Regions from separate parts of the Homo sapiens genome. Here region 1 is linked to region 2. Evidence: fine-mapped expression QTL. A gene starts in region 2. The other region holds a variant in brackets. All regions are shown on one strand. Distances are from middle to middle.

What was found. PIP is the estimated chance that this variant, and not a neighbour inherited with it, causes the effect. A credible set is the group of variants that fine-mapping cannot tell apart.
Region 1: its variant is the best candidate, but not a certain one, in a credible set for the expression of KLF11 in lymphoblastoid cells (GEUVADIS, PIP 0.82).

What each region holds. Positions count from the first base shown.
Region 1 is chr2:10,070,118-10,074,493 of GRCh38, reverse strand. All of the region lies in intron 1 of CYS1 (cystin 1), which reads left to right. Among named protein-coding and RNA genes, the nearest start is that of CYS1, 8.1 kb to the left of the region's middle. RefSeq lists an enhancer at 2,703-3,204. The variant A/C (reference allele first, on the strand shown) is at 2,093.
Region 2 is chr2:10,041,440-10,045,815 of GRCh38, reverse strand. It overlaps KLF11 (KLF transcription factor 11), which reads right to left and starts at 2,266. Exons shown (of 4, transcript NM_003597.5): 1 at 2,058-2,266. The coding sequence starts at 2,099. It overlaps KLF11-DT (KLF11 divergent transcript), which reads left to right and starts at 2,415. Exons shown (of 3, transcript NR_135558.1): 1 at 2,415-2,506; 2 at 2,812-3,183; 3 at 4,165-4,263. RefSeq lists an enhancer at 1-349, silencers at 1,573-1,642, 1,683-1,732, 1,853-1,902, 2,193-2,422 and a promoter at 2,109-3,008.

The DNA.
Region 1 (4,376 bases), 29 kb before region 2:
TGTAATAGAAGGATCCACAGTGGCGGGGGAGGTTGTACTGGGGGAGACTGCATGGGGGCAGGAGCCCAGGTAAGGGAGGAATCCAGGTGAGAGGTGGAGGAGGAGGTGAGGTGAGCCACTGAGTTTGACAAGCAAGGGAAAGTGAGTTTCTAGAAAGACTCCAAGATTCCCTGCTTGTGTAGTTGAGAAGATTCAGAATGCTATTAACAGGATGGGCCTAGTTTTGTACAAGTTGAGTTTTGAGTCCTAGGTGGATAATTTCCGTGGGCTGTCCGAAATTCCTGTCAACTGCGAAAAGTGGTTGGAGCTGGAGCTGTCATTTCGTGGACATCAGCATTTGGATAGTGGCTGATGCCATACCAGAGTACAGTTGCTGAGGGAGAGCGTGTGGATGGGTGGGGAAGGATGCCAAGCCTGGAACATGAACATCAAAAACTGAAGGAAGAATTGTCCTCTCTGGAGTTCTATAAAAAGAGTAGGATTAAAAGATGTTAGAAGCCCAGTGCCTCGACCCGGGGGAGGAGCGGGCAGCCTCAGAGGCTCTCTCCCTTCATGGTCCCTGGCTGCTGGCTGCTGTAGGTGATTAGAAGCCTGGTTGCATCACGGTCAGGGGTACAGCCTCACATTTCCTGCCCTGCTGAGAGGCTGTGGTGGCTGCTGCTGAGTACTGGGCACGGCAGGGTGTAGAAATGCCGTGGAAAGGAGGATGTCGGCTCATGCACTCTTCGAGAGATGCTGACCAAGAGCTCTTAACCTTGGAGCTTTGAGTCCCATAGGGCTGGGGCAGACCCTAACTAGACTCTGGGAAGGAGGGTCAGAGCAGTGGTTTGTGCACAACACAGGCCCTTCTGCCCCTAAATGCCGTGAGCCCATTACCCAGCAGGGAAAGCAGCCCCCTGCCCAAGGCCACCCATTCCGATTCCCACCAAGCTCTGTTTCTTGATAGTATATGGCCAGACAGCTGTCATTTCTTTCTATTGCTGAAATCCGAGATGACTTGAGCTTAAGGGACCTCACAGATGGTTCAGTCCCACCTTCTTATTTACATCGGAGGACTTTGGGGCCCAGCAAGGAGTGGGAGGGTGCCTGTTTGCAGGTCAGGCCAACCGCAATCCACACCCTGTTAGCACGGACAAGTCTCTCAGACCCTGAGTCCAGTGACAGCCTCTCTGGGTCTCCCTTGCCTTTTTCCCTGTGGCTTTGGAAACACCTCCTTCAAGGCAAGGCCTTCCCAGTGGAGACGGGCCCTGGACTGGCAGCCCACAGCCGGGGGGGGGGGGGGGGCGGTTCCCAGAGCCCCTTGTCACGTCCTTGTCATGTTAGCCATGCAAGACAGGTCTCATCGCAGAGCCCACCTGCACCGCTGCCCCCCAGAGCCCATCTGCACCACTCCCACACAGCCAGCCTGCACCGCCCCCCCATGCAGAGCCCACCTGCACTGCTCCCACACATCTGCTCTGCTCCCACACATCTGCTCTGCTCCCACACATCTGCACTGCTCCCACACATCTGCTCTGCTCCCACACATCTGCACTGCTCCCCCGCGCAGACCCCACCTGCGCCATCCCCCCCTACGCAGAGCCCACCCGCACCACTCTCCGACTCACAGCCTGCCTGCACCGCTCCCCCACCGCTCCTCCACCTGCACTGCTCAGCTTCTGCTGCCTGCAAAGCCCTACAGTGGAGCTTCCCCAGGGCACTGGGATCTTGGCCTCTGTGTGGGGAGAACAGTGCCCTCTGGTGGTGAGCAACAGAACGAGACTAGCAAAATTGTGAAAGCTGGGTCAGGTCCAGGAGAGCCGTTGTAGGAGTTTCTCTACTGTACATGTTCAAGTTTCCTTAAGAAAACCGAAAAGCCAAACAAACCAAACCTGGGCTTCAAAGAAGGATAATTCTGAAAGAGGAAGGGGGAAGTGTATCCATACTATGGAATAAAAGGAATGGAATTGTTCTGCCAATTACACATATAACTGGTGTATGTACATACATACATATTAAGCTGCTAAAAATTAAGAGTTAATGGAAGAACTCTTTCAGGAGAAGAAATCCACTGTATATTTTATTTTGGGTAAATATGCAGTGGATTTTCTAA[A/C]AAGTAACCTTTGGGCCGGGCACGGGCACGGTGGCTCACGCCTATAATCCCAGCACTTTGGGAGGCCGAGGCAGGCGGATCACCTGAGGTCAGGAGTTCGAGACCAACCTGGCCAACATGGTGAAACCCCAGCTCTACTAAAAATACAAAAATTAGCCAGGTGTGGTGGCGGATGCCTGTAATCCCAGCTACTCAGGAGGCTGAGGCAGGGGAATCACTTGAACCCAGGAGCAGAGGTTGCAGTGAGCTGAGATCCCACCATTGCACTCCAGCCTGGGCGACAAGAGCGAAACTCTGTCTCAAAAAAAAAAAAAGTAACCTTTGAAACTTTAATTTTCACGAAAACTTTAGTTTTAAGAGTCAAAAACTTTAAGAGATGATCTTATTCGCTTCATTCTCATATGTTTTCTGCTTCTTGTTTAGCTGTGGTTTGGTCTTTCCAAAGCCCCCCTAGAATCTCAAGGGATGACACACACCCCTCGCACGCACACAAACATACACATACAAACAGGGCGCACACACACACTGGTCCTGAACTCAGCTCAGTTCCCAGGGCCCCAGCCCAGGTGCTGCCGGTTCCCCACGTCCGTCCAGGTGTCTCAGTGATCTGCAGGTGGAGGCAGCCCCCTGGAGGAGCCCCTGTCTGCAGGAGGCTGGAGCCACCATCTGGGGCTGCTGTGTCTTTGCTTTTCATACCAGCTCCTCCTGGCTGCTTCAGCAAGCTTGTGTGTTCTGGGAGTCTCATGCTTTTTCCATCTGAGAAAGTAAGTTCAAGGCTTAAACAAATTGGCCAGATAAAGGGCCACGCAATAAAATCTCAGGCACAGAGAAAAACACAGGTGAAAACAACAGAAACAGCAAGGCTGAGCCATTGGGGAAATTGCTTCCTCCTGCGTCCGCTCTGGGGGGCCGTTCACGCACTGGATGGCATTCCATCCTTAAGGCTGCCCTGAAGCTGCAGTGTCTTCATGTTAGTGAGCAGTGCAAAGTCAGGTCCCTACGCCAGGCATTCCAAGCCCCCTGCCGCAAGGGTCCCGCTGCCCTTTCAGAAGGGCAGCAGCAGGCAGCTCAGTGTCCACCCTGACAGGCCCTGGGCTTGGCTGGATGTCCTGCCTTAGCTTTAAGAGGTTCTCAGAGCCGGGCACGGTGGCTCACGCCTGTAATCCCCGCACTTTGGGAGGCCGAGGCCGGTGGACGGCCTGAGGTCAAAAGTTCGAGACTAGCGTGGCCAACATAGTGAAACCCCGTATCTACTAAAAATACAAAAAATTAGTTGGGCGTGGTGGCGGGCACCTGTAATCCCAGCTACTCGGGAGGCTGAGGCAGGAGAATCGCTTGAACCTGGGAGGCAGAGGTTGCAGTGAGCCGAATCACGCCACTGCACTCCAGCCTGGATGACAGAGCGAGACTCCGTCTCAAAACAAAACAAACAAACAAACAAAAAGGGTTCTCAGGCTGGGCGTGGTGGCTCACCATGCCTGTAATCCCAGCACTTTTTAGGAGGCCGAGGTGGGGGGATCGCTTGAGCTCAGGAGTACAAGACCAGCCTGGGCAACATAGGGAGACTTCGTCTCTACAAAAAGTACAAGAATTAGCCTTGTGTGGTGGCATGTGCCTGTAGTTTCAGTTACTCAGGAGGCTGAGATGGGACCGTTGCTTGAGCCCAGGAGTTGAGGCTGCAGCGAGCTATGATCAGGCCACCGCACTCCAGCCTGGGCAACAGAACAAGACCCTGTCTCGAATAAATAAATAAATATGCCAGGCGCAGTGGCTCACACCTGTAATCCCAGCACTTTGGGAGGCTGAAGCGAGTGGATCACTTGAGGTCAGGAGTTCAAGACCAGCCTGGCCAACATGGCAAAACCCCACCTCTACTAAAAATACAAAAATTAGCCAGGTGTGGTGGCATACATCTGTAATCCCAGCTACTCTGGAGGCTGAGACAGGAGAATCACTTGAACCCTGGAGGCAGAGGTTGCAGTGAGCCGAGATCACGCCACTGCACTCCAGCCTGGATGACAGAGCAAGACTCCATCTCAAAAAAAGTGAAAAATAAAAATAAAACAGGTTCTCCATCTCAGCACGGGGACCGCAGCGATAGAGGTCAAGGCAAAGCCACACCCATCAGAGGGTACTGGGCCAGGCTGGGAGAACCCTGGGGAGCTCCTTGGCATTGAACCAAGTACACCAAGGCCCGGAAGGTGAGGAGACGGGAGCATGAAGACGCTGTTGTCGCGATCCCTTCTTACCCTTGCCCTCCCCCTCCTCACCTGCTGAGCGTTCA
Region 2 (4,376 bases):
GAGGAGCAGCTGCCCAGGGAGGAGGAGCCAACACTGAGGCCATCTAGTCGGTCTGCCAGTGGCCGCGGCGCCCTGACCATGGCTCTCTGAGGCGGCAAAGCCGCCAAAGCAGTGTCCCTACAGATGCTCTCAGGGACTCTGGGGCCTTCCGCCTAGGCTTCCAGCACTCCACGCAGGTAGGGCCCATGGCGATTCCACCAGTTCCCTCCACAGATTCGGGAGTGGAAGTCATCTGTTACTGTCCCAAGGCTAGCAGGTGGTGACAAGAAGCCAACCTGCCGCGAACCCGGAGAGGATCTCTTTGCAGTTTTTTTTTTCTTTTTGAGATGGAGTCTCAGTTGCCCAGGCTGGAGTGCAGTGGCACAATCTCGGCTCACTGCAGTGCCCGCCACCACACTTGGGTAATTTTTGTATTTTTAGTAGAAAGAGAGTTTTGCTATGTTGGTCAAGCTGGCCTTGAACTGACCTCCCGGGTTCAAGCGATTCTCCTGCCTCAGCCTCCAGAGTAGCTGGGAGGCGTCCGCCACCACGCCCAGAAAATTTCGTATTTTTAGTAGAGACGGGGTTTCACCATGTTGGCCAGGCTGGTCTCCAACTCCTGACCTCAGGCGATCCACCCGCCTTGACCTCCCCAAGTGCTGGGATTACAGGCGCCCGGCCTTGTTTTTTTGAGACAGAGTCTTGCTCTGTTGCCCAGGCTGGAGTGCAGTGGCACCATCTCGGCTCACCACAACTTCTGCCTCCCAGGTTCAAGCGACTCTCCTGCCTCAGCCTCCCCAGTAGCTGGGATTACAGGCGCCCACCACCATGCTCAGCTGATTTTTGTATTTTTAGTAGAGAGCGGTTTTCCCCATGTTGGTCAAGCTGGTCTCGAAAGCCCGGCCTCAGGTGATCCGCCCACCTCGGTCTCCCAGAGTGCTGGGATTACAGACGTGAGCCACCGCACCAGACCCTCACCGTCTCTTTAATCTGGAGGGGAGGAGGGAAGAGGCTGGAATGAGCTGATCTCTTCCAAAAGAAAACTAAGCCGGGGGCGAGAGGGTGATATTACTCTGAGAAGAGTAATACCCCTCCCTCCCAGGGAGGTTACAGTGGGCCGAGATCGCGCGCCCACTGCACTCCGGCCTGGGCGATAGAGCGAGACTCCCTATCAAAAAAAAAAAAAAGGAAAGGAAACTTTAAATGTACGAAGATACACGTTTCCTCTCTATCTGCCATGCACCAAAGCATCAAAGCTTTCCGTCTGCCGAGGTTCCCCGAGATCAAACAAGACGAGGCCACCTCAAATCCCCGGCCTCTGTCCCGCAGGCTGCGCCACTAAACCCCCTGTGATGTCACAGAACCGGGCGCCGAGGCCGACTCACCACACGGGCGGGAAGGGGCTCGCCCGGCCCACAGTGCCCGCACACCACGAGGCCCGCGCTCTGCCCACGTCCACGGCTACCTCCCCGAAGCCCCCAGGTCGCGACGCTTAGGGCCCCCAACGCTCGCGTGCCGCGTTCCCGCCTCCAAGCGTTGCCCCGCCTCCAAGGCAGTGCGGCGCTCCCGCCTCCCGTCGTTGCCCCGGCCCCTAGACCTTGCCCGCCCCCAGGCCCGAGCGGCACTACCGCTAGCCGCTCTTAACCCGCCCGACGGCCGCGTGCCCCGCCCCCAAAACCGTGCCGCGTTCCCGCCAGCAGCTCTTGCCCCGCCCCCAAGGCCGCGTGCCGCGTTCCCGCCAGCCGCTCCCCCGCCCAACGGCCGTCCGGCTCACAGGACCGGGGTGACGTCATGGCTGGAAATAGCCGCGGGGCCAGCGGGGCGGGGCCGCCCAGGAAGCGCAAGACAAAGCTGCGCGGGGAACACGCCCCCTCCTCGCCCCCGCCGACCCGGGCGCGCCCGTCGCGGCCGCCGCCCCGCCCGGCTCCGGAGCCCGCCCAGGCCCCTACCGGCGCGGCCGCAGCGAAGCCCTGCACGCCCCACCTCCCGCATTTACAGGCGCGCGAGTGCCGCACCACTTCCCCCGCCTCGCCCCTCGCTCAGACGAGTAGTCCCGCCGCGGCAGCCCCACCACTCACTGCGCGCGCGTCGTCTGGGCCTGCGAAGTCCGGCGTGTGCATCGTGCAGGCCGGCCGGGAGCAACAAAGCGGCCGCGGGGCGTGAGCTCGGGCGCAGCAGCGGCCGCACGTGGGCTGCGGGCGGCGGCGGCGGCGGCAACCCGGAGCTCCTGCGGCCGGCACGCGCCTCGCCCGCCCGCGCGGCTCTGCCCCGGCGCGGCCCTCGCGGCGCGGGAGGGGCGGGGCGGCCGCGGAGGGAGCGGCTGGCGGGGCGGGGCGCGGAGGCGAACCAAAATACACCGCGCCCCTGCCGGGGCGGGGCCGGCCACCACCAGCCAATTCGTGCCCGGCCGGCCAATGAGCGCCGCGGGGGGCCGCGTGATCGGAGCCTGGCCGCGGCGTGATCGGGCAGGGCGGGACGCGGCACGTGTTTTGGTCGGAGCGAGGGGCGGGGCCTGAGGCCCTGGAAAGTAAGGGAAAGGTCGCAGCGGCGCCAGGGGCAAGCGGGGCGGAGGGGGCGGCGGGGGCGGAGGGGGCGGCGGGGGCGGAGGGGGCGGCGGGGCGGCGGGGGCGGCGGGGCGGAGGGGGCGGGGCGGCGGCTGGGGAAATCCCAGGGCCGGGGCCGGACTCGGTGCGGGGAGAGGGGACCACGCTTATAGGAACCTCCTGCAGCCCCACCGGCTGAATCCATCGGTAGCGGAGACCCACCTAGAGGCCTCAACCTGGCTTTTGTTTGGTTGTTTTTAACTTCTGTCATTCTCCCTTCGTCTCTTAGGAATGCGTCCTTGACCGGAGAGGTCGGAAAGCTGGCCGGTTCTAGGTGACATTCCTGCATCCGGTCATTTTTGCAGACAGCGGGAGTCAGAGCTTATTGGCCTGAGTGTCCCGCTGACGCCCCTCCTCTGGCGTCTCTGGGCCTCTTCCGCTCTGTTACGGGGTCAGGGGAAGCCGAAACGGGCAGTCACCCAGAAGGCGCCCGCTGAAACCCGCCCATTCTTCCCAGGCCCCGAGAAAACGCCGCCCCCTCCGGGAAGTCCTCGAGCCTGCAGGAGACATCTAGCCCGCTGTCCAGGGCACCTTTTTTTTTCTCCCTATATTTCGGTTGCTCGCGTCTCTTGGTGTGGTTTGCCCACGTCTGCAGCGCCAGGTTCGTGGAGAGCAGGAACCATGCTGTTTATTTTCGTCGCCGCAGCCTTCAGCTCAGCGAGGAGCCACCCCTCCTCCGTCTGTTCACTGCGCGCGCCTTTGCTGAGCTGTGATGCGGGTTGGCGCTCAGTGCAAGGGGCAGAGGCCGCAGTGAGGAATCCTCCTTTTTTAAAAGCTCCATCCAGGGAGCGGGAGCAGAGAGAGAATCCCGGCACCCCGGGGCTTTGCTCTGAGCGAGAGAATTCTGGTCTTAGGGGAACGGGCTGGGCCCCACCACTCACATGAGCAGGACTCTGGTCCCCACTTGTTCCTTCGGGGCCCACTCGGGTTGGGCAGAGGGGTTGACCAGGCTGAGGAGAGGGTGTTTGCTGAAATAGTAAGAGGGTTTAAGACGAAAGAACCGTGATAAACTGCTCGCATGAAGACCCCGGAGGCTCTGAGAGGGGCGCAGGGTGTTCTGTGTGTAAAAAGTTAAGTCTTAAGATACACACTGGAATATTCTCTTTTGCCTGGACTCCTGCATTCGCCTTATAACTGGTCTCCCTGCGTCCACTCCAGCTCCCAGAGCCTCTTCCCACTCAGCACCCCCAGGGGTCTTTAACCCTTTCAGTGGCTCCCACTGTACTCAGCGTAACGCTTCTGCTCCCCACTGTGGCTTGTGAGCTCCTGCAGGGACCCAGCCCCATGCCTCTCCCCACGCCCCGGAGGGACAGCCTGGGCCTCCTCTTGGGCGCCTGTCCCACCAGCCCCTCTGCCGTCTCCAGGTCCTCGCACTTGCTGTTCCCTAGAATGCTTTTCCCCCACATGCCCCCTTTACTCTCACCCGCAGTCCACCTGGAGAGGCCCCCTCTAGCGGACACACCCTCGGGGCCGACCTCCAGTCCCCTTCTGGCGGGCTTTCTTGTTTTCTTCCTCCACAACACTTTTCTTGAACTGCCCCTTTTCCATTACTTCAGTTATTTATCATCTGTCTCCCCACCAGAAGGACTCTCCCAAGGCCAGGGAGCCTGGCTGTTTAATAAGTCCACGTAGGTGAACGAGCGAATCGAAGGTATCCACCAGCCTCCCTGCTTGAACATCCCGTGAGCACCTCTAATTGTGTCCTTAAAAAAACTGAACTCAGGGCCGGGCGCGGTGGCTCACGCCTGTAATCCCAGCACTTTGGGAGGCCGAGGCGGGCGGATCACCTGAGGT